3 separate regions of the Homo sapiens genome follow, and regions 1 and 3 are each linked to region 2. Evidence: fine-mapped expression QTL. A gene starts in region 2. Each other region holds a variant in brackets. All regions are shown on one strand. Distances are between the middles of the regions. Region 1 overlaps LOC102724104 (a long non-coding RNA gene). Region 2 holds the start of CX3CR1 (C-X3-C motif chemokine receptor 1). Region 3 overlaps SCN11A (sodium voltage-gated channel alpha subunit 11).

What was found. PIP is the estimated chance that this variant, and not a neighbour inherited with it, causes the effect.
Region 1: its variant is fine-mapped to the expression of CX3CR1 in whole blood (TOPMed, PIP above 0.99).
Region 3: its variant is fine-mapped to the expression of CX3CR1 in whole blood (INTERVAL, PIP above 0.99).

Annotation. Positions count from the first base shown.
Region 1 is chr3:39,247,477-39,255,661 of GRCh38, reverse strand. All of the region lies in intron 2 of LOC102724104 (a long non-coding RNA gene), which reads right to left. Among named protein-coding and RNA genes, the nearest start is that of CX3CR1, 28 kb to the left of the region's middle. The variant T/C (reference allele first, on the strand shown) is at 3,309.
Region 2 is chr3:39,276,719-39,284,903 of GRCh38, reverse strand. CX3CR1 (C-X3-C motif chemokine receptor 1) reads left to right here and starts at 4,868. Exons shown (of 2, transcript NM_001337.4): 1 at 4,868-4,950.
Region 3 is chr3:39,039,139-39,047,323 of GRCh38, reverse strand. The region is part of intron 1 of SCN11A (sodium voltage-gated channel alpha subunit 11); the gene reads left to right. Among named protein-coding and RNA genes, the nearest start is that of SCN11A, 8.7 kb to the left of the region's middle. The variant A/G (reference allele first, on the strand shown) is at 3,078.

The DNA.
Region 1 (8,185 bases), 29 kb after region 2:
AGGAAGCTTTCCTTGCCCCATGTGTAACCCTTCTATAGCCTGCAACCCAATGTCCCTGGCCTGTCTTTCACCTTGAGGTGAGCTCATGCTCCTCCAGCCTTTGTCTCCCATCTTTTGTGCATGAAACAGCATGGTGGCCTTAACTCTAGTGTCTAGAAACCTTCCCATGGACTCCTCACTTCTCTTCCCTCTTCAGGAGAAGAATGAGATGAAGATTTGTAGCCTGAGGCCTCATGCACACAGGTATCCCCAGGAATGCCTAAGCAGCATACGCAGATTTAAACCTATCTTGGGGCTGAAGCAGGACCTAAAGTTATATGTACTTTTTCGTCAACACAGTTTTGCACAGAAGCAGAATATGAAGGATGCAGAGTTGAGGAGGCAAGAGGTGTCATTCTGCTCTGTGATGAACCTGAGTGGGCCCTTCAAAATACATGGCTTCTGGCTTTAGTGGCATGTGCTGGGTAAATTCAGCTGCTGCTATTCAGATGGCACAAAATATTACTAAAGTACTAAAGGCTTGTTGGGGTGAAATTAATGCAGCAAGAAAAATAGTGATTAAGTTTTCACTGGTAAAATTTTGACATTTGGCTGAGTAGGAGATAACTTGAAGTTGTAGGAGTAGCTATAGTTAGCAGTGCACTGGTATTTGTGGACTATATTTAAACATGTCTAAAAAAGGATGCACTTCTTTGGTATTTATGACTCATCTTTATAGGATGAATCATTTGCATGAATTAAATTTATCTCTTAAATCTAAAACCACAATTTGCTATTTTTTTCCTAATAAAAGAATAGTTTCTTAGACCATTTGTGCTGCTATAACAGAATACCATAGAGTGGGATATTTAAAAAGAACAAAAATTTGGCAGGGCGCTGTGGCTCATGCCTATAATCCCAACACTTTGGGAGGCTGAGGCAGGCGGATCACAAGGTCAGGAGATCGAGACCATCCTGGCTAACACAGTGAAACCCCGTCTCTACTAAAAATACAAAAAATTAGCCGGGCGTGGTGGTGGGCACCTGTAGTCCCAGCTACTTGGGAGGTTGAGGCAGGAGAATGGCATGAACCCGGGAGGCGAAGCTTGCAGTGAGCCGAGATTGTGCCACTGCACTCCAGCCTGGGCGACAGAGCGAGACTCTGTCTCAAAATAATAATAATACTAATAATAATAAAATAAAAAAATAAATAAAAAGAACAAAAATTTATTTCTCACAGTTCTGGAGGCTGAGAATTCCAAGACAAGGCATGAGCATTTGGTCTGATGAGGGCCTTCTTACCATGTCCTCACATGGCAGATGACAGAAAGACAAGCCACCAAGCTAGCCAAACGCTGCATGAAGCCTCATAAGAGACTTAATCCCATTTACAAAGGAGGAGCCCTCATGGCATAATTACCTCTTAAAGACCCCCGCCTCTTAATACCATCACATTGACAACACCTGGATTTTGGAGTAGACGCATTCAAACCATAGCAAATGGTAAAGAAAACACGCCTCAAGTGCCTGGGTGCCAGGAGACAGTGTCATGGTGCTGCAACCACTTTGGGCTGCCCATGCAGGACTTCCTAGCACAAGAGTCACAAAGCCTCCCACTTGTTCATACCACCTTCTATTGGGTTTTCTGCTCCTTGCAGCTCCCTGCAATAAGCTGGTAACTACCCTTCCCTGAATCCCCTGCTGCCACGCAGGTGTTCACCAGACATCCACCTTCCCACCTATACCACAGCCATCGAGCCACATAGGTGGTCTGGCCCCTCTTCCTGTCTGGCTTGGCCCTCAGGTCCAACTACTGTGCCCACTTTCCCATGCCACGCTGCAGGCCGGAGTCACTCTGCTGCACCCATGCCACACCACATCGTGGGCCTCTCCAAAACGCTGGTTATGGCCATCTGCCTAGACCTCTTCTCTCTCTGGGGTCTGCTCCTTCCCAGGACTCTGCCCAGGGAGCAGAGCACAGGCCTGTTGCCGCTGGATCCTACAGATGATCATGGGTGCTGCAGCAACTGCAGGGCTTTGCCCAAGAGGCAGAGAAGGGCCTCGCTCTCTGTGACACCTGAGTCTATACATTCGTAGCTGCCCTGCCCACCCCCTGCCTCCTCCTGCCCAGGAAATCTGTTTATCGTCTAGAAGGAGAGGAAAGGGGAAAGCCTCCTCTTTAGCATTGCCTAAGAAATTTAGATCTTTAAAAGGTAGAACCAGAAAAAAATAAGTTAAAATTCTTTGTGACTTGTCCTGCTTCACAGGGCATGGTAAAGACTAGGTGTCAGATAGATGTGGATGAATTTGGAAAGAAGCGATAAAAGAGAGGGCCAGTGTGCCACAGGGCATGGCAGAGCCTCTGGAGGTCAAAGAGGAAGGTTTCAGGTGGAAGAATTAGATAATGCAGGTGCTGTGGTTGGAGCCTTAGAGACCAGGCAAGACTGGAAGAATCCCACAGATGCGCTATGCTAACTGGGGGCGGGGGGAGAAAGAAGTAATCACAGAGGCACAGGAAGCAGCAGGCAAAAGTAGCCCCCAAGTCCTCTTCATCCTCCACTTCACACAGTCAACCCTCAGAGTCACCCCCTCCCTGTTGTCCTTCAACCAGACCCTCTGTCAATAGCCTCTCCCTGCCCTCACTCTGCACGCTACTATCGCCACTAGCTCCACTGCCAGCACCAAGGCCGGTCTCCCCAGCACTGCCTGGTGACCGCCTGCACACCTGAGTCTCCTGCCCCAGCTTCTCACCATGCATCCTCCCAGCCACTCCTCCCCAGGCCTTCCAGGTCCAAGGCCACAGCATGAGAGGAAATGGGATCACCTTTGCTGGAGCTCCTTTCTGTCTTGTCACCTCCTTAAAAGACTGTCAGCACTGGCTGGAGGCCTTCACCCCTCCATCGCCATTGTGGCCCATCAGTCCTCCTGTGCTGGGGGCTGGCCAGCAGTCCATGGGGCTGGCTGGAAGAGCCCGTAGGTCTGTGTGTGCGCACACACACACACATACATGCACACGCACATGCACACACCTTCCTAGGACCAAGAGAAGGGCCAAGTTTCATGGAGGGTATGGCAGTTGGGCTTAACGATGTGGAAGTATTAAGAATAAGAAGGAAGCCCCATGAGAACTCAGTAAGCTATTGGGAGAAGCCACAAGTCACTGGGTGGGTGAGACCAAGCTAAGAAGGTTGGTGACTGCTTGAAAGAGCAGTGATCCTGGGGACTTGGAAAGGTCCTGCTGACATGTGGGCAAAGCCCCCAAGTCTCAGAGAGAACCTTCCCCAAACAACCCTCACACAGCCAGACAAGTCAAATGCCCTCCTGGCCCA[T/C]GGCCACCCTCAGGACCATTCATGAGGGGAGCCTGACATCTGCAGAGATGCCCCCTCTCTCCAGTCTCCTTATCTCTCCTCGTCAAAGAGCATCACTGTCCCCACCTCCATTCATGACTTTGTGTCCTAACTCCTATGATTTCCCTCTCTTCCAGGTTTTTCCTCCTCTGCTTATAGCAGAGGAGCAGAAGAGCAGGGCTGTTATACATGGAGGCAGACCCAGGCTTCAATCTCGGTCCAGCACTTCCCAGCTGTGCAGAGTGTTTCATCTGAGCCCTCCTAAATCCAGGCAGCTGTCCCCTGGTTAGCAGAATGTAGTCTTCTTGGGGGTAACTGGCATGTAGCTAAGGAAGCCACTTCTGTGCAAAGGTATCTGGGACCAGTGATGTGAAAAGTGTGGAGAAAAAGAAGCAGGAGGTATCTGGCCCCAAACCTGCCCCAGAACCTCTGAGAACTCCCTGGAACTGCGTGAAAGCCAGCAAGGCTATGGTGGTTTTGGAGTCTCAGGAAGTCTGCAGTCACTGGAGTGTACCATAGACAGTCCTGCTGGGAGCCAGGAAGAGATGTGATAGCAGGCAGGAGACGCCCGATGCCTGGCAGATGTGTAGGATGCCATTGGAGGGCATGGACTTGGCCCTGAACACCTGTGAGCTGCCCTCTCACTCCAGAAAGGTATAGAGAGATGCTGTCCTTACTCAGGGGAGACTGGAGACTCAAGATGACGGAGGCTTGGTGTTCATTGGGCCCCGTTAGTATCCTGGGGCATTTGAGCCACAATAGCCAAGGGACAGTGCATTTATTTCTGAACTTGTCTCAGCTTCTCCATGTGAAAAATGGTAATAAGAGTAGCATGAGACTTAAGCAGGTGGTTTCAACTCCTAGCTCCACCATATATGTACTGACTACAAAACTTGAGGCAATTCATTTAATGTCTCTGTGCCCTGATTTTCCCATCTGTAAAATAAACATAGCAATGGTGCCCAGTGTTGGGGTTTCTGCTGTTTTGGCTCCTCCAAGAAGCAGGTGCTAAGATGGGAAGGAATTGGACGTATGAGAGATGTGTTAGGGAGAACACCTGTGAGGGAAAAAGGGAGGCTGTGAGAGGCTGAGAAGCCTCCAGACCACAACACAGGTCTGTTCCCTGTGTGGAAGAGATGGAAGGAAAGTTTTGGCAAGGCCACTGGGATGTCATGGAGCTCAGGTGATGTCTCCCAGGATTGGAACTGCCATGCTGAGTCCCTCGATGGGAAGCAACTTCAGGGCACAACGGTCAAGTTCTTCTGACAGTCGGAGCTCTGAGGAGCTCTGAGGGCACCTTCTCACATCTGCCATTGGGCTGTCACAGAATTTAAGGATTTGCCTAATTCTGATAGAAGTGTTGAGAATAGAGCTAGTCTTATTTATTTTGAGCCCCCATCATATTCCTCCCAACATCCAGCCTGCTGGAACAAACTGTCTGCTCCCCATGCTCCCACTCTCCCCTGCTCCTCCCTCCTTCAATAAGCCTCCTGTTTTTATTATTTTCCCCCTCGTTTTCTTCCTATTTTCTTTCTTTTTAGGTCTCCTCTCAGATCTGCCCTCCAGCCACAGTCCCCTTCCAGGAAGGGGAAAGGCCACAGAGGGGTAGGCGGAGGGGAGAAATGGCATTGGGCAGGGGGGGTGGGTGATGGGTGGGGTGGGGCACCGTGTGCAGCCCTAAATGTGAGTGAGGGAAGGCCCGAGGCTGATGCCTCCATATGCCTCTGCTTCCCCACACTGAACCTTCAGGAAGTGTGGGCCAAGCAGGAGTCTCCCTCAGAACCACAGCCATCCCCCCTACTTAGAGGACCTGTGCCTGAGCTTCCACCCTGGCTTACTTCCCACAGGAGGCTAGGAAGCCCTTGCTAATCAGCATCCAGCCTTCACCTGTCAGCTCCTAAAGAGAGAAGAGAGCAGAGAAGAGAGCTGAGAAGAGAGCAGCTCTAGGAGCTTCCAACATTTGTTCCTCCTGCCCGGCACAACAAAGATCTATTTTAATTCCCTCTGCTGGCTAGTCACTAGCATAGTGGAATGACATTAATCTCCCTTGTCAGGGGGAAGCTGAGGAAGCCAATACTTCTCCTTTGAGGTTTGAGTTGCAAAACTCTTCCTCAATCTCCAGCATTATAAATCCTGTTTTTACTTTCACAGCTATGTGCAAAATCCAAATAGCACCTTTCTAAAAATGAATAGAAGAAGCCATGTCTTATTCTGAAATTAAGTTTCCGAGGCTCTAAGAGGAGAGGACTAAGAGGGGCTATTCCAGCAGGGACACTGCTACCCTTGATGGGACACGAGAGGAGCTGTGCACCCTGAAGGATGACCTGACCCCCTCCCTTCTATTTCTAATTCAAGGAACATGGCCCAGGATGAGACAGTCTAGGAAATTATGCACACCCAAAAGGGTGGCATCGTCTGGGGAAATGTCAGCATCCCAGCACAAACTGACTCAAAGAAAGGAACTACCATCTGTGTGTGTCTGCTGAATACAGGCATTGTGCTAAAGTAATCTTAGCAATGTTGTCTGCAGCCCTTTATGGCTTTTGGTGATAGGTACCCAGCCACAGGGCAGTCCTGAAAGTCTGAGAAATTAGTCACAGCATCATTCGGGTCACACCATTGTGGTGGCTGTTACCTGCAAGAGGCTAACAAAGAGGTTTTAGGGTATGACTTCAGGTTGACCAAGTCAAGTGCATGATCTTTCCTGAGTTCATTCCTGGAGAGTGTCTATGTGACGGGTTCCTGCCTCAGCCCTCCTGGCAGAGAGCCTGTTTGGCTGAGCTGTCATGGTATCCACTCTGGGTGCTCTCTTCCTGCTCTCAGTGGAGGAGGGTGGCAGTTCATCACTGAGGTGTGAGTGAGCCTCAGATGTTTACGAGGAGGAGTTTCAGGCGCATATAACTCAAAGAAAACGGCTGGTCTTTCGGAACTTGCTAGCAGACCTACCTGCCACCCAGAACTAAATTCAATGAAACTTTATTTCATCCCTTATAAAGCATCTCTCATTTTGTGGACTGGGATTGATTCCTTCAAAAGTTGCCCTTACAGATACCACATCTGCAATGGTCCAATCATAAGGGTAACCACTCTTGGTAAACTATGTACATGCTTTGCTTGAGGGCATTAAAGATCAATATGTCCATGGACTGGCCTCTTCTCAAAACCCAACCACCAGCCAGTTGCCTTTACCATAACTCTTATCCTTAAAAGCCACATCTGATGGCATGGCCATGATGGCTAAGTTGGGTGCCTGATGAATCCAGACAGAAATTTAATAGTAGGCCCAAGTTACAAGATTCCAGTTCTGGAAAGTCAGCCCACGTCCATCTGAAAGAGCCTATGGTGCAGTGGTGACAGGTGGGAGCTCCCAAGGACACTGCCTGGTTTAAATCCCAGTCATTCCACCCACCAGCTGTGAGACATTGGGCAAGCTCTTCACACTTTTTGGTCTCAGTTTCTTCCTCTGTAGAATGAGAGTGATAATAACGGCTAACTTCACAGTGTAAGAATTAAATGAATTAGTATTTGAGAACTTCTTAGACCTGGACCTGGCACATGGCACAAATTCCACGCACACTGTTTGTGGTAGTGGTGAGGGTGATCATTGTTACGTATGTCCTAGCAGTAGAAAGTGGCCCAGGCTGGGATTTGAACATAGTACCACATTACTACCCAGCCACACTCTTTCCATGAAGCTGTTTTTTGTTTTTTGTTTTTGTCTTTCTTTTCTTTCTTTTTTTTTTTTTTGAGAGGGAGTCTCACTCTGTGGCCCAGGCTGGAGTGCAGTGGCGCGATCTCGGCTCACTGCAAGCTCCGCCTCCAGGGTTCACGCCATTCTCCTGCCTCAGCCTCCCGAGTAGCTGGGACTACAGGTGCCCACCACCACGCCCGGCTAATTTTTTTGTATTTTTAGTAGAGACAGGGTTTCACCGTATTAGCCAGGATGGTCTGGGTCTCCTGACCTCGTGATCCGCCCGTCTTGGCCTCCAAAAGTGCTAGGATTACAGGCGTGAGCCACTGCGCCCGGCCCACGAAGCTGTTTTTAATTTGGAAATGTCCGTTCCTTGAGATTCAAAACTAAAAATTAGGAACTGAAAGGTAGAGAATTCATCTTCACTGGGTATTACTGAGTGTTTTTACATCATGGCAGCCTTCCCTTTCAGCCTGCTTGGTGTTGCCGACGCCTCACATAGGCTGAAAGCACCCAGCTCTCTCCCTCTCGAACAAGAACTATTGTTCTATCTATGGGAATAGAAAGATCGACTTTCACATTTGGAAAAAATTAAACAAACCACTTTAAAGAGGCTGAAAACTGACTGCTGGAATATTTAACTAGATTAAGAATTAAAATTAAGAAAGTTTCTTTTACCGTTTTCCCCAACTTTTTATTTTAAAAATGGTAAAGCTAAGAAGTTAAATGAGCACTACAACAAACACCATATAACCTTTATCTGGATTCTGCAACTTTACCATTCTGCCACCTGTGTTTGATCTCTCTGTGTGAGAGGAGAAAGAAAGAGTAAGAAAAAGAGACAGAAAGAGATTTTTCTTTGACTAAACTATCAGAGAGTAAGTGACAGATATATTACTCCTAATTACATTAGCATATGTGTCCTAAGGATAATGACTCCTGCCACATAACCACAATATTATTATCACACCCAAGAAATGTAACATTGATTCAGTAATATCACTTAATGTACAATCCAATGATACCCAAATTTTCCCCTATAGCTTTTTAAAAAATCTAGGATCCAATCAAGATTCAACATTGCATTGACAATTGATCGTCATGTCTCTTTAGTCATCTTTAAGGCAGAAGTGAGGCAAACTTTGTCTATGAAGAGTTAGGTAGGTCT
Region 2 (8,185 bases):
TTTACAATTCTATGCATTTTCCTGTAGCGAGATCCCTTCTCCGTCTTCCACCACCCACTGCTTTGGCTCCCCTCTTGCTGTTCCCTGCCTGCATCTGGGCAGGAAGTTCCAATCCTGACTTGACCCTTTTTCAGCTGTGTGGCCTAGGACTCATTGCTCTTTTCTCCCCATTTCATCATCTGAAAATGGAAAAAATAATACCTGACTAGAAAGTGAAAGTAAAAAAGAGATATAATGGACAATGTGCCTCGCACAGGGCCTGGCATGGAGAAGTCCTTGATGTACGTCTTTTCCTTCCCTTTTATGCAGCCGTTTCCCTCACACCCACCCATTGATTGATTTTTCTGAAGAGACTACTTTTGTCATGTCACCCTCTAATCCCCAGACTTTAAACTGGGAGGTAGCAGAGTGGTCTGATTAAGACCTTAGACAAGGGTTTCTTGTCTGGGCGCAGTGGCTCACGCCTGTAATCCCAGCATTTTGGGAGGCCAAGGTGGGCAGATCACTTGAGGTCAGGAGTTCGTGACCAGCCTGGCCAACGTGGTGAAACCCCATCTCCACTAAAAATACAAAAATTAGCCAGATGTGGTAGCAGGCTCCTGTAATCCCAGCTACTCGGGAAGCTGAGGTGGAAGAATAGCTTGAACCCAGGAGGCGGACCTCAGCACTTCTGCCTGGGTGATGGGAGTAAATCCTGTCTAAAAACAAACAAACAAAAAAAAAAAACTTAGACAATGGTTTCTCAGCTTTTTTTAATCACTCCCCAACAAGTCCTTTTAGATATTATATTCTTTTGTGTGTGGCGGGGTACATAGCGTGTGTATATGTTTGTAGGTTACATGAAATGCTTTGATACAGGCATGTAACGTGTGATAATCACATCAGAGGAAATGGGGTATGCATCACCTCAAGCATTTATCCTTTGTGTTACACACAATCCAATCATACTCTTTTAGTTATTTGTAAAGGTAAATTAAATTTTTTTTACTATAGTGCCCCTGTTGTGCTTGTAAATACTAGGTCTTATTTATTCTAAGTATTTTTTGTGCCTATTAACCACATTATATATATATATATATATATATATATATATATATATATATATATAATTTTTTTTTTTTTTTGAGATGGAGTCTCGCTCTTTCGCCCAGGCTGGAGTGCAGTGGCGCTATCTCGGCTCACTGCAACCTCCACCTTCCGGTTTCAAGCGATTCTCCTGCCTCAGCCTCCCAAGTAGTTGGGATTACAGGCACCCGCCACCACGCCTGGCTAATTTTTATATTTTTAGTAGAGACAGGGTTTCACCATTTTGGCCAGGCTGGTCTTGAACCCCTGATCTCGTGATCCACCCACGTTGGCCTCCCAAAGTGCTGGAATTACAGGCGTGAGCCACCATGCCTGGCCCACATTACATTCTTACTCACCTCCCCCTACCATGGAATTTTATTCCACAGATATGCTATTGGTTTAGCTACTATATGTATATCTGTGTTTTATACATAAAGCACAAGAACCTTCCAGAACCAATTTTCGCCACCTTGGAAGTAATACCACCTCTACTAAGAATGCACAGCATAGACCATAAAACCTCAATGCTAAGTTCAAATATTGGCCCTACCACACATGAGCTGTGTGGTCTTGTACAAGTTACATAACTTCTCCTCCTTGTCTCAAACTCCTCACATATAAGATGAGGATAATAATAGTACCTGCGGCCACACACAGTGGCTTAAACGTGTAATCCCAGCACTTTGGGAGGCTGCGGCAGAAGGATCACTCAAACTCAGGAGTTCAAGAGCAGCCTGGGTACATGGCGAAACTCTGTCTCTACAAAAAATACAAAAATTAGCTGGGTGTGGTGATGTGTGCCTGTAGTTCCAGCTACTTGGGAGGCTGAGGTGAGAGGATCGTTCGAGCCCAGGAGATCAAGGATGCAGTGAGCTATGATCATGTGGCTGCACTCCAGCCTGGATAACAGAGCCAGACCCTGTCTGAAAGAAACAAAAACAAAAACATTAGCACCTGCATCATAGGGTCACTGGGGGCACTACATGAGTTCATGTACATCGAGGACTTAGGACATTGCCTCAGGCAGACCTAGTGCTGCACAACTGCTTATGTAATTATTCCCAAATTTCTCCAGGGCCCACAGAAGAACATGGAAGTATCTTGGTTTGGCAATTAAGGTGAATCACATTCTCACTCTCCTTTTCTGCATCTCTACCCCACATTCCCACAAAGCTTTATTCACACCAAGTCTCCAGTCCTTGCCTGCATTGTGTGATGGGTGCCTGCAGTGATGGGTGGGGACACCCATCACTGTCCAGGGTGTCCCCACCATCCTCACAGCCTCTCTGTCTGGCCTCCTGCCTTTGAGCCAGCCCACCACACTCTCATTTCTCTGCCCAGCAGAAACCAAACTGTCCTCTGCATTTACTGTCTCAACTGGAAGAGAAATGCAGAATGACAAAGAACTTGTGAACAAGGGTCAGCTCCAACAGAGAGTGAAGCCAAAGGGGCTGGGCAGAAAGAGAGATGAAGACGGGGATCTAAGGAATAAGGCTGTACCAGAGTGAGAGTACGGGGGAGGGGTTGAACAAGAGTTCAGGGAGGAGAGAATTCCCAGCGCTGAGCCAGAGACTCCTTTACAGAGGCCCAAGGAGGCGTGGAGGGAGGGGGAAGGCTGCCAAGGCTCTTTCTGTCTCCATGAGTGTGTCAAGAATGCAAAGCACTAATGCTCTTCACTTGGTCCATCTTGCAGGGTTGAGTTTGCAGTGAGCAACCTTGAAGGATGAGCTGACATCTCGCTCAGGGCCAAATAACCGACTTGCTTACTGCTTGCTATAAAATGGCACGTTACCCAAGGTCAGAGTTCCCTTCCTATAACCTCCCCATCCCTCACACATTCACAGGTATCTATCCAAGCCATGGCATCACTCTGTGGGGCTTGGGGGCAAGGCAACTGACACTGGACGCTGGTTCTCATGCTTGCCAAGCATGAAGCCCTGTGCTGCTAGCAGCTGTGGAACATAGCCGTTAGCTTTAAAAGAGGGTAAAATCACGTCCTGGACAGGACAGCCAGGTGAGTTGGGAAGGGAAGAGAGCCTGCCACGGGCACAGGCATGTTGGGGGAAGTGGAAGTGGTGAGAGCACAGTAGGAAGTGAGAAGGGGCGGGCCGTGCTTACCAGGCCGTGGACTTAAACCAGGATGAGAGAACCCCTGGAGGCGTTTAAGTTGGCAGACTTGGATTTCAGGAAGAGCTCTCTGGCTTCTGGGTGGAGAATGGCCAGTGGGGTAAGTGGTGAGAGGAAAGACAGAGAACGGAGAAGGTTAGATGGGCTTGGGAAATTATCCAGGCCCTGGATGGAGGTAGAGATGTGTGCTCATGAACACGGAGGGGATTACTGATGTGGGGTGGATGAGACTGTCGTCAAGAGTGTGGGACAGGAAGAGAGGGAGAGTCTTGGCCAGATCCAAGAAAGGAGCCCTCAGAAGAGGAGGGGAGTCAGAGGCAAGGAAGGGGCTGAGGCAGCCAGCCCAGCTGAGTGGACCCCAGGAGAGGTATCAAGGGGTGGTGTGGGGTGGGGAGGGGCCAGTGTCAGAAAGTGGATGGGGAGCGGCCTGACTCTGCTTTTGTCCTGTGGCCTTCTGGCCAAAGGCAGGGAAAGGTGGCCAAACACTGAGACCAAGAACAAAGAAAGAAAACTGCTGGTGGACTTCTTCCACCATGAGCAGGCCACCAAGCCCGCAGCACTGCACTGCAGCCCCCAGCTCTGTCCTGGGGTTGGGGGAGGTGAGGAGGGGCAAGGTGGGGAGCACACAGAGCACCCGCTGTCCTCGGAACACCACAGCGACTAGAGGTAAGGGAGCACCGGATGTGGCTGGGATGTGGGCAGCAAGGGGCCAGAGGGGCCTTGAAGGGGTCACAGACCATTTAATGAAGGTGTATTGAAGGCCACCATGGGCCAGGCCCTAGTTAGGGATGGATCAGAATTATATAGCATATGCCAGGGGTCAGGCAGGTAATGAAGTGATCGGAAGGTGATGAGGCAGTGGCAGTTGAGATTCACGTTGCAGTCGCCCCAAGCTGGCCAGGCCAGGGAGCAGAAGCATGGCTGGATGCCGGAGCCCACCAGGCTCCCCACTGCAGGGCAAGAGTGGCAGGGGGAGAGACTGTGAAAGGAGCATAGGCCAGGTCCTGGGTGAAAGCTGTGTCCTCAGCCTTGACTGATGGGTATAGGGAGCCACTAAATGCCTTGGGGCAGAGAGGTGAGGAAAAAAATATTTACCGAGCATCTACAAGGTGCAAGGTACTCACTAGATGCCTTCAGTACCAAAGCTTCTCAAACTTAGTATGCATATCACTCTTCTAAGAATTTCATTAAAATGCAGATTCTAATTCAGCAGATATAGGGCAGGGCTTGAGGTGCTGTCTTTAATAAGCTCCCAGTGCCTGGGACTGCACTTTGAGGAGAAGAGCTGTGTGTGCCCCAGTGTGGTCCAGTGAGTACTCTGGGCTCCCTCTCGTGGGCAGGGAAGCTGAGGGCCCCATGAGCTCTCCCAGCTTCCTGAAGGCTCCCCATTAATGAGAGCTGACTGTGCTGTGCTTTGCTGACTGCAGGGCCTGCTCCCTGCCCCCCACCTCCAGGTTGGGGTAAGTGGCACCTCTCTCCCTCCAGCTCCGCAGTCTTCCCTGAGGTTTAGATCTTCCAGGTTTATAAAGTCAGGCCCTCCTGTTGGCAGCTGGCCTCCACCCTGGAGTATCTGAGCTTGCCTGTGGCAGCATCTAAAGATAGTCTCCCTTACAGGAAACAAGATACTATTGGCTAACTCTGCAAATAAAATGCTCTTAGAGGGAAGGAAAGGGAAATACTCGTCTCTGGTAAAGTCTGAGCAGGACAGGGTGGCTGACTGGCAGATCCAGAGGTTCCCTTGGCAGTCCACGCCAGGTAGGTGCACAGGACTAGTTGGGTACCTGTGGGTGGGGTGGAGCAGTGGACAGCTAATAGGTTAATAATGCCTGTTTGCTTACGTGCAGACAATGGAAACCATTTTCCTGGGGATGTTGTAGCCTAAATATGTCCAAGGGGATGGAAGAGTGGGAGGCAAGGGGTGATCAGATCATTTATAATACACTCAACCTGGTGGAATAGTATTAGAAGCATTAGTAATTACATTTTAGAGACATGGAGAAAAGCTCATGATTTTAAACTAACTGAAAAAAGCATGAAAAATTGCATCTGGATGCTGTTGAGGAATTATTGCTAATTTTTTGAGATGAGAAATTGTATTAAAGTCTTTTTCAAAAAAGAGTCCTTAACTTTTAGAGATGCACACAAGTGTTTATGGGTGAAATTAAATAATTCAGTAGAGACATTAAGTGGGAAATAGAGGAAATATTGACCATGGGTTGCTAATAGTTGAAGCCAGGTGTTGGGTATAAGGAGGTTCTCGCTGCTTTTATTTGAAAAGTTGCTTTTTATTTGAAAATTTAATAATAAAGAGTTTTTAAATTTGTATCTGTATTTTAATATAAATATAAATGCACTTAATATAAATATAAAATATGTATAACATTTAGATAGAGAAAAGCTAAAAGATTACTGTGGTTGATTCTAGGAAACTGCATTGCAGATAGTTTCATGGGTTTTTTTTTCCTTTTTCTTCCACTTTTTGTACCATCTATGGGTTTTTGTTTGTTTTTTGTTTTTTGGGTTTTCTTTCTTGTTTGTGTTTTGTTTTTTGAGACGGAGTTTTGCTCTTGTTGCCTAAGCTGGAGTGCAATGGCACAGTCTCGGCTCACTGCAACCTCTGCCTCCTGGGTTCAAGTGATTCTCCTGCCTCAGCCTCCCAAGTAGCTGGGATTATAGGCATGTACCACCGCCCGGCTAATTTTGTATTTTTAGTAGAGGCGGGGTTTCTCCATTAATAAATTCCTGGCACAAATTTAGTGTTCAATTTTGATATATGTTGTTATAACCATTGTGAGGATACTCAGGCTCAGGTTTGTGTGGGTGGAAAACATGGTCTTCAGAAAGAAATTATGAGTGCAAGACAGGAGGAAATCCATCAGAGGCCCCAGCTGAGGACTGACCACGGCTTGTTATTTCTCTTGCCTTGCCTCTGGCAATCACAGCCTCACAGAGCCTGCAATCCTTGCTTTGTGAGTTTATAGCTCAGTCCAGAGAATGGCTAAGAAAGTTTAGGATTCTTTCAACACCCACTCCACAAAAAAAAAAAAAAAAAAGAAAAGAAAAAAAAATTAATTTTTGAAATACTTGAGGTAGAAAACTTGAGGCAGAAAAAAATTGAGCCAAAAAAAAAGGAAAATTGAACCACGTGAAAGCAGGCAAGAAAGCTTGCATTGCTCAGGGCATCCCAGGCCCAGAGGGCGCTTTGGAGGGAGCTGGGTTTCCTGAGAGGAGGCAGGGTGGGTGACGGACCTGTGCTGGAGAGCCTTGAGGACCACTGTGGGTTGGGAATGGGGGCAGTGGATTGGGGTTCAAAACCCCTGGGAATGAGAAATGGGCTCAGGAAGGCTAGGGTGGATTCTTTCATCTTCCTCTTTGCTTGGCTTTATTTTCACAAAGGAAGGCAGGGCAGGAAATAGTCTCAGCCCAACTTCAGTGTGGTTCTTCTTAGTGCTCAGGCTTACCTGGCACTTGCCACACCTCTGGGATGGGAGCACCTACTATCCATCAGCCACGTGCCAGTCTCCACAAAGTCTGCTCCTGAACCCTGCTCCTCAGCTGGCCCCACTTCACAGATGGGGACATAGGCAGCTTGGCTTTGGAATGAAGGAATGAAGTCAGGAATGAAGTCCTGGCTCTGCACTTGGTGACTGTGCACTGGGCTTGCTAAGTCTGTTTCCTGCTTTTAAAATGGAGATTGTCCATCAGCCTTTGAAGCCATGTAATGGGTATGTGTCAACTTTCTGCAAGGATTAAAGGCATGGTATAGGAAGTCCCAAACACACTGCCTGACCCATCTTTGATGCTCAAGAAACGATATATGTTGTTGTCATGAGGAAACTGAGCCTCAGAAAGTTTGGATACCTGAAAAACACTGACTACTATTGAATGAGGTTGTGAAGAATCCAGAGCTGTAGGGGCAGGAAAGCAAAGAACGTATTAGAGCTGACCCAGTCAGGACGATCGTCTATCCCCTTCCTCACCCCACCCCATCCCAGGAGGAAGCCTGCCCGGCCCTAGGCAGCTATGGCACAGTGGCAATGTCAGGTATGGTTCTCCCTAGCCAGAGACCCTAGCCTCAAAAAACCTCCTTCTTGGGATCCAGGCATCCAACTGCTCCTCCCCAGCCCCAGCCTCTGACCCAGTATCCTGAGTCCAGAGACGTTTGGAACCAGCACCTGTAATGGAGGAGCTGAACAAGGAGGGGAACTTCTGCTGCTCCACAGCAGGTCACGGTCATAGGAGGGAGTGGAACCAGAATGGCAGAATCCAGATCTTGGCTGCCTTTCCCAAGGACTTGTTCTGATTCCTAGCAGCACAGCCCAGGCATTCCGAGAAGTTGGGCTCTCTGGCATCACTCACTCTGCCCAGAAGAGCCAGGGGAAAGTTGGGGCTTCTAGCTGAACCTTGATCCCACCTGCCCTCTTGAGGGGCTCAGAATCTGCTGGCTGCTTCACAGGTGGGATTCTCACGGCACGCTGGCCACAGCTGATGCTTCGACCCCCTCATCTTGTTTGGCCAAAGTGCAGCTTTTTAGCTTGTGAGTAAGGAAGAAAAGCTGTATCATATGTCTTTAAACATCTTCCTAGACCACCTTTGTTTTCCCCTTAAAGTGTGCTTAAGGAGAAAATGGAAAGTCTCTTTTCAGTGTGTTGTATTTTGTTTATTGCAAAATACAACACACTGAAAGAACAATGTCTGGGTTAGCAAAGTATTAGATTTAATTTCCCACATTACTACCATCCAGGCTGAGAAAGAGAACCCCAGAAGCCTCTCTCATGTCCCTTCCTGACCACAGCCTCTTCCTCTCCCACAAAGAACCACAAGTCTGACTTCTATGGTGATCACTTCCTTGCTTTTCCCTATAGTTTGACTGAATCTAAATATCATCCCTAAACAATATAGCTTAGCTTTGCCTATTTTTGATCTTCATATTTGGATTCATACTTTTTGGTTTGGCTCAAGACTAAACTTTTAAAATGCATCCACGTTG
Region 3 (8,185 bases), 240 kb after region 2:
TATAGGGGGTCAGTTTTCCCAGCACCATTTATTGAACAGGCTGTTCTTTTCCCAATATGTTATAGGGCCTTTGTTAAAAATCAGTTAATTGCCAGGCATGGTGGTACATGCCTGTAGTCCCAGCTACTTGGAAGGCTGATATATGAGGATTGCTTAAGCCCAGGAGTTTGAGGCCTGCAGTATACTACAATTGTGAATAGTCACTGCACTCCAGCCTGGGAAACATAGCAAGACCCAGTCTTAAAAAAAAAAAAGGGGGTGGGGGTGGGGGTGGGGGGATGGGGGTGGGGGTGGGGGGTGGGGGGCTGTGTGCAATGGCTCACACCTATAATCCCAGCACTCTGGGAGGCTGAGGTGTGTGGATCGCTTGAGCCCAGGAATTCAAGACCAAACAGGGCAACGTGGCAAAACCAGTCTTTATCAAAAAATACAAAAATTAACCGGGCATGGTGGTGCATGCCTGTAGTCCTAGCTACTCAAGAGGCTAAAGTGGGAGGATTGCTTGAGCCTAGGAGGTTGAGGCTGCAGTGAGCAGAGATCACATCATTGCACTTCAGTCTGGGTGACAGAGCAAGACCCTGTTTCAAAAAAACCATTAGTTGGCTATAAATACATGGATTTATTTCTGGGTTCTCTATTCTGTTCCATTGGTTGATGTGTCTTTTTTAATGCCAGTACTATGCTGTTTTGTTTAGTGTAGCTTTGTATGGTATATTTTGAGGTTAGTGTGATGCCTCCAATTTTGTTCTTTTTGCTCAGGATTGCTTTGGCTATTTGGGGTCGTTTGTAGTTCCATATGAATTTTAGGATTATTTTTTCTATTTCTATGAAGAATGTCATTGGTATTTTGATAGGGATTCCATTTAATCTGTAGATCACTTTGGGTAGTTTGGTCATTTTAACAATATTAATTCAGTATATGAACATGGATGTCTTTCCATTTTTGTGTATGTCCTCTTCAATTTATTTCATCAGAGTTTTATAATTTCCTTCATTCCCTCCCTCCCTCCCTCCCTCCCTTCCTCCCTCCCTTCCTTCCTTCCTTGCTTCTGTCCTTTCTTTTTGAGACAGAGTCTCACTCTGTTGCCCAGGCTGGAGTGCAGTGGCCTGATCTCGGCTCACTGCAACCTCCACCTCCCAGATTCAAGTGATTCTCATGCCCCAGCTTCCTGAGTAGCTGAGATTACAGGCCCGTGCCACCACGCCCAGCTAATTTTTGTATTTTTAGTACAGACAGGGTTTTGCCCTGTTGGCCAGGCTGATCTTGAACTCTTGGCCTCAAGTGTTCCTCCTGCTTAGGCCCCCCAAAGTGTTGGGATTACAGGAGTGAGACACTGTGCCTGGCCGCTACTGTTTTGTATATTGATTTTATATCCTACAACTTTATGAATTTCTTTATCAGTTCTGAGAATTTTTTGATGAAGTCTTTAAGTTTTCTATATATAAGATCATATCATCTGCAAACAGTGACAATTTGACACTTCCTTTCCAGCTTAGATGCCCTTTATTCTTTAATCTTGCCTAAATGCTCTAGCTAGCATTCTCCATACTATGTTGAATAAGAGTGGTGAAAGTGGGTATCTTTGTCTTGTTCCAGTTTTTAGAGGAAGAGTTTTCAATTTTCTCCTGTTTAAGATGATACTAGCTGTGGGTTTGTCATATATGGCCTTTATTGTGTTGAGGTATGTTCTTTTTATACTTCCTTTGTTGAGAGTTTTTATCATGAAAGGATGTTGAATTTTATCGAATGCCTTTTCTGCATTGATTAAGATGATCGTTTGGTTTTTGTCCTTGATTCTGCTGATGTGATGTATCTTTTGTTTATTGATTTGCATATGTTGAATCATCCTTGCATCCCTGAAATAAATCTACTTGATCATCATGTGTAATCCTTTTGATGTGTTGTTGGATCTGGTTTGCTAATATTTTGTTGAGAATTTTTATATCTATGTTCATCAGGGATATTGACCTGTAGCTTTCTTTTTTTGTTGTGTTTTTGCCTGGTTTTGGCATTAGGGTAGTGTTGGGGTTGTAGAATGAGTTTGGAAGAATTCCCTCCCCTTCAATTTTTTGGAATAATTTGAGAGGAATTGGTGTTAGTTATTTAAATGCCTGGTGCAACTCAGCATTGAAGCCATGGTCCTAGGCTTTTCTTTGTTGGGAGACTTTTTATTTCTCCCACAATCTCATTACTTGTTATTGATTTGTTCAGGTTTTCTATTTCTTCCCGATCCAATTTTGGTAGGTTGCGTGTGTCCAGGAATTCATTTCCTCTAGGCTTTTCATCTTGTTGGCATATAGTTGTTCATAATAGTCTCTAATGATCTTTTGTATTCCTGTGGTAACAGTTGTTTTTTTTCATTTCTGATTTTATTTATTTGGGTTGTTGCTCTCTTTTTTTAAAATTACTCTAGCTAGTGGTTTGTGGATATTATCTTTTCAAAAAACTTTTTGTTTTGTTGATTTGTATTTTTTGTCTCGATTTCATTATTTCTGCTCTAATCTTTATTATTTCTTTCCTTATGCTAATTTTGAGTTTCGTTGGTTCTTGTTTTTGTAGTTCCTTGACGTGCATCATTAGTTTGTTTATTTGTAATCTTTCTGCTTTTTTTGATGTAGGCATTTATTGTTATAAACATTCCTCTTAGTAATGCTTTTGATGTGTCCCATTGGTTTTGGTATGTTGTGTTTCTGTTTTCATTTGTTTCAATTAATTTTTAAATGTCCTTCTTAATTTCTTCATTGACATATTTATCATTCAGGAGCATGTTATTTAATTTATATGTATTTGCACAGTTTCGAAGTTTCTGTTATTATTGATTTCTAGTTTTATTTCATTGTAGTCAGAAAAGATACTTGATATGGTTTTGATTTTAAAAAATGTGTTGAGACTTGTTTTGAGGGCTAACATATGGTCTATCTTGGAGGATGTTCTATAAGCTGATGAAAAGAATGTGTATTCTGCAGCTGTTAGAAAAAATGTTCTGTAAATGTCTGTTAGGTCCATTTGGTCTATATTGCCGTTTAAATCTGATGTTTCTTGGTTGATTTTCTGTCTACATTATCTGGTCAAAGGT[A/G]TTGAAATCCCCAACTTAATTGTATTGGAGTCTGTCTTCCCTTTAGATCTAATGATATTTGCTTTATATATCTGGGTGTATATATATTTAAAATTGTTACACCCTTTTACTGAATTGATCCCTTTATTATTATATAATGACATTCTTTTTCTCTTTTTACAGTCTTTGACTTAAAGTAAAAAACTCTTGCTTGTTTTTGGTTTCTGTTTGCGTTTACATTTGGCATTTAAAAAATTATTTTTATCTTTAACTTTCGTGGGTACATAGTAGGTGTATTCATTTATGGGATATATGAGATCTTTTGGGACAGGCAGGCAATGCATGGTAATCACATCATGGAAAATTGGGTATCCATCTCCTCAAGCATTTATCCTTCTTTTTTTGCATTTATCCTTTTTATTACAAGCAATGTAATTATACTTTTTAAATTATTTTTAAATGTACAATTAAAGTATTATTGACTGTAGTCCCCCTGTTGTGCTATGAAATACTGTCTTATTTATTCTTTCTAATTTTTTTTGTACTCATCAGCCATCTCCACCTCCCCACCACCCACCCCCAACTACCCTTCCCAGTTTCTGGTAACCATTCTTCTATTCTCTGTATCCATGAGTTCAGTTGCTTTGATTTTTAGATCCCACAAATAAGTGGGAACATGTGATGTTTGCTTTCTGTGCCTGGCTTATTTCGCTTAATATAATGACCTCCAGTTCCACCTATGTTGTTGCAAATGACAGGATTCTGGGTTTTTTTTTTTTTTTTTGGCTGTATAGTACTTCATTGTGTATAAGTATCACATTTTCTTTATCCATTCATCTGTTGATGGACACTTAGGTTGCTTCCAAATCTTGGCTATTGTGAACAGCGCTGCAACAAACATGGGAGTGCAAATGTCTCTTTGATATACTGATTTCATTTCTTTTGGGTGTATACCCAGCAATGGGATTGCTGGATCGTATGGTAGCCCTATTTTTAGTTTTTTGAGACTGCTAAATGATTCTTCATAATGGTTGTACAAATGTGCCTTCTTACCAACAGTATACGAGGGTTCTCCTTTCTCCACATCCTCGCCAACATTTGTTATTGTCTGACTTTTGGATAAAAGCCATTTTAACTGGGGTGAGATAATATCTCATTGTAGTTTTGATTTGCATTTCTCTGATAATTAATGATGTTGAGCACTTTTTCACATGCCTGTTTGCCATTTGTACGTCTTGTTTTGAGAAATGTCTAGTCAGATCTTTTGCTCATTTCTTTTTTCTTTTTCTTTTTTTTTTTTTTTTTTTTTTGAGATGGAGTTTCGCTCTTGTTGCCCAGGCTAGAGTGCAATGGCATGATCTCGGCTCACTGCGAACTCTGCCTTCTGGGTTCAAGTGATTCTCCTGCCTCAGCCTCCCGAGTAGTTGGGATTACAGGTATGCGCCACCAAGCCTGAATAATTTTGTATTTTTAGTAGAGACAGGGTTTCTCCATGTTGGCCAGGCTGGTGTCGAACTCCTGACTTCAGGTGATCCTCCTGTCTCGGCCTCCCAAAGTGCTGGGATTACAGGCGTGAGCCACTGCACCTGGACCTTTTGCTCATTTCTTGATCAGATTATTAGATTTTTTTTCCCTATAGAAGTGTTTAAGCTCCTTATATGTTCTGGTTATTAACTTCTTATTAGGTGGATAGTTTGCTAATATTTTCTCCCATTCTGTGTGTTGTCTCTTCACCTTGATGATTTTTTCCTTTGCTGTGCGGAATCTTGATGTGATCCCATTTGTTCATTTTTGCTTTGGTTGCTTGTGCTTGTGAGGTATTACTCAAGAAATTTTTGCCCAGATTAATGTCCTGGAGTGTTTTCCCAATGTTTTTCTTGTAGAAATTTCATTGGGATTTCTTTTTTATATTTTTTCACTTTCAGTCTATGTGTGTCTTTACAAGTGAAGTGAGTTTCTTATAGGCAGAATAGGCTCTTGGTTTGTTTGGGTTTTTTTGGAGATGGAGTCTTGCTCTGTCTCTCAGGCTGGAGTGCAGTGGCACAATCTTGGCTCACTGCAGCCTCTACCTGCTGGGTTCAAGCGATATTCCTGCCTTGGCCTCCTGAGTACCTGGGACTACAGGCGCCTACCACCACGCCCAGATAATTTTTATATTTTTGGTGGGGACAGGGTTTCACCATGTTGGCCAGGCTTGTCTCAAACTCCTGACTTTAAGTGATCCTCCTGCCTCAGCCTCCCAAAGTGCTGGGATTACAGGCATGAGCCACTGTGCCGGCCTGGGTCTTGTTTTTTTAATCCATTCAGCCAGTCTATATTGTTTAATTGGGAAATTTAATCCATTTACATTCAAGGTTATTATTGAAATATGATATTTTTTCTGTCATATTGTTAATTGTTTTCTAGTTGTTTTGAAATTCTTTGTTCTTTTCTTTCTCTAATTTATCTTTGCAGTGATAAAGTTTATTTTTCTTTCTCATTTGTGTATCTTTTCAATCAGTTAGTTTTGTACTTTTGTGTTTTCATGATGGTGGTTATCATCCTTTTGCTTCCAGATGTAGGACTCCCTTAAGTATTTCTTGTAAGGATGGTCTAGGGTGATGAATTTCCTCAGTTTTAGTTTGGGGAAAATTTTATTTCTTCCTCATTTCTGAAGGGCAGTTTTATTGGGTTTGATATTCTTGCTTGGCAGTTTTTTTCTTACAGCACTTTGAATATATCATCCCATTCTCTCCCGGCCTGTAAGGTTTCTGCTGAGAAAAATGCTGTTAGTCTAATGGGGATTTTCATATATGTGACTTGACATTTTTTTCTTGCTGTTTTAAAAATTCTCTCTTTGTCTTTGACTTTTGACAATTTGATTATAATGTGCTTCAGAGAGGACTTTTTTGGGTTGACTATATTTGAAGATTTTTTAGCTTCCTGGATGTCAATGTCCATATGTCTCCAAAGTCTTAGAAGGGTTTCAGTGATTATTTCATCAAATAGGTTTTCTATTCCTTTTTCATCTCATTTCCTTCTTAAACATTCAGAATGTGAATATTTGTTTGCTTAATGATGTCCTGTAAGTACTGTAGGCTTTCTTTATTCTTTTTGAATTCTTTTTTCTTTTTTTAGTCTGACTGGGTTATTTCAAAAGACCTGTCTCCAAGTTCAGAAATTATTTTCCTTTTGTTTTTCTTTTTTGAGACAGAGTCTTGCTCTTTCGCCCAGGCCGGAGTGCAGTGGCGCTATCTCAGCTCACTGCAAGCTTCTCCTCCCGGGTTCACACCATTCTCCTGCCTCAGCCTCCCGAGTAGCTGGGACTACAGGCACCCGCCACCATGCCTGGCTAATTTTTTTTTTGTATTTTTAGTAGAGATGGGGTTTCACCGTGTTAGTCAGGATGGTCTCGATCTCCTGACCTCATGATCCGCCCACCTCGGCCTCCCAAAGTGCTGGGATTACAGGCGTGAGCCACCATGCCCGGCCTTCAGAAATTATTTTCTTCTTGATCTAGTCTGTTATTGAAGCTCTCTATTGTATTTTTTATTTCATTAGCAGAATCTTTTAGCTTCAAGATTTCTGTTTGGTTCTTTTAAAAAAATAATATATGTTTCTTTGTTGAATTTCTCATTCAGAGCATTAATGTTTTCCTGATTTCATTTGTATGTCTGTATTTATCCTGTATCTTGCTGAGGTTCCTTAGGCTCATTAGTTTCAATTCCTTTTTAGGCATCTGATAGCTTTCATTTTGGGGAATGTGTTACTGGAGAATTATTGTGTTCCTTTGGCAGTGTCGTGTTTCCTTGTTTTCTTATGTTTCTTGTGTTCCTATGTTGATTTCTGTGCATCTGGTAAAATAGTCACCTCTTCCAATTTCATGGAGTAGCTTTCATTGGGAAAGACTTTTTTCCTGTAGTTGTGACCTGTAGTGTTGATTGCATAAGGTGCTTTGGCTTTGGTTCTGAGTGGGTGCAGTAGTATAATCTCCACACTCGATCTTAGACAAAAGGCTGAGAAGCAATAACAGTTATGTAGTCTCTGTGTGATTTTTAACAGCATGAGCAGTATTTGAGTGCCACAGTGGCATAGACTGTTGACATTTATGGAGGCTATAGTGTAGTTTTGCTGGTGGTAAGTGTCCATTGGTGGCCAGTTCTTGGATTATGGGAGGGTGCTTGCCTGGAACAACAGCTTTACTGATTATAGGATGCCATTGCCAGCTGTGGTGGGCACCAGGTGGGCACCAGCCCTGAGGAACACAGCACGTGATGTCTCTACCTCTAGAGGGGGTGGGGTTAGCAGAGGTGGTGTGTGCTAGGTAGACCAGTCCTCAGCCCTTGGCGGACATGTACACATGCTATATCTCCATCACTGGATGGGGCAGGGTTGCTGGCAGCAGTGGGTGCTAAGTGGGCAGGTCCTTGGTCCCTGGGAACTGTTTCAGGTACATGGTAGCTCTGCCACTGGAGGGGGCAGGGTCTCCAGTGGTGACAGCCTCTAGGTGGGCTGATCTTTGGTCTCTAGGGGTGCCCATGCATAAGGCAGCCTCATCACTGGAGGGGATAGGGTTGCTGGCAGCGGTGGGTACCAGGTGGCTGGCCAGGCACATTGGCTTCCTCACTCCTGAGGGTGACCTCCTTACTGTGCTGGACTACCTGCTTCCTGGAGCACAGAGTGCTATGTGGGCTTTAGTGCTAGAGTCATGGCTCTACTGCTAGGTCTGGCTGGGATACTGGCACTCAGTCTTCTGTATGGGCATGGTGGAATGACCGCAGGGCCCCAGGGATATTGGAGACATAGGGCCATTGGATCCTGGGGCAGGATGTACTTCAGCAGTGGCTTCTTTCCCAAAATGGTACCATGCCGTGACAGCTTAGGTCCCAGGGAGTCTGCAGGAGAGGGTTCATTGTGTGTTTGTGGATGTATTTTAAAACCATCACACTGCCATAGGCAAAATAAATAGATTCAGAAACAAAGGGATATTATACCTAATGACCCACTTAAAACAATTTTTTAGACTTCCATTCTCTGAAATTCTGGGCTTCGGTGGTTTTAGAGGTTTGTTTCTAAAGAAAGGAGTTCCTCCAGCAAGGGCTAAACAATGATTTCTTTGATTTGGAGCTGAGACTGCCATCTGACCATTT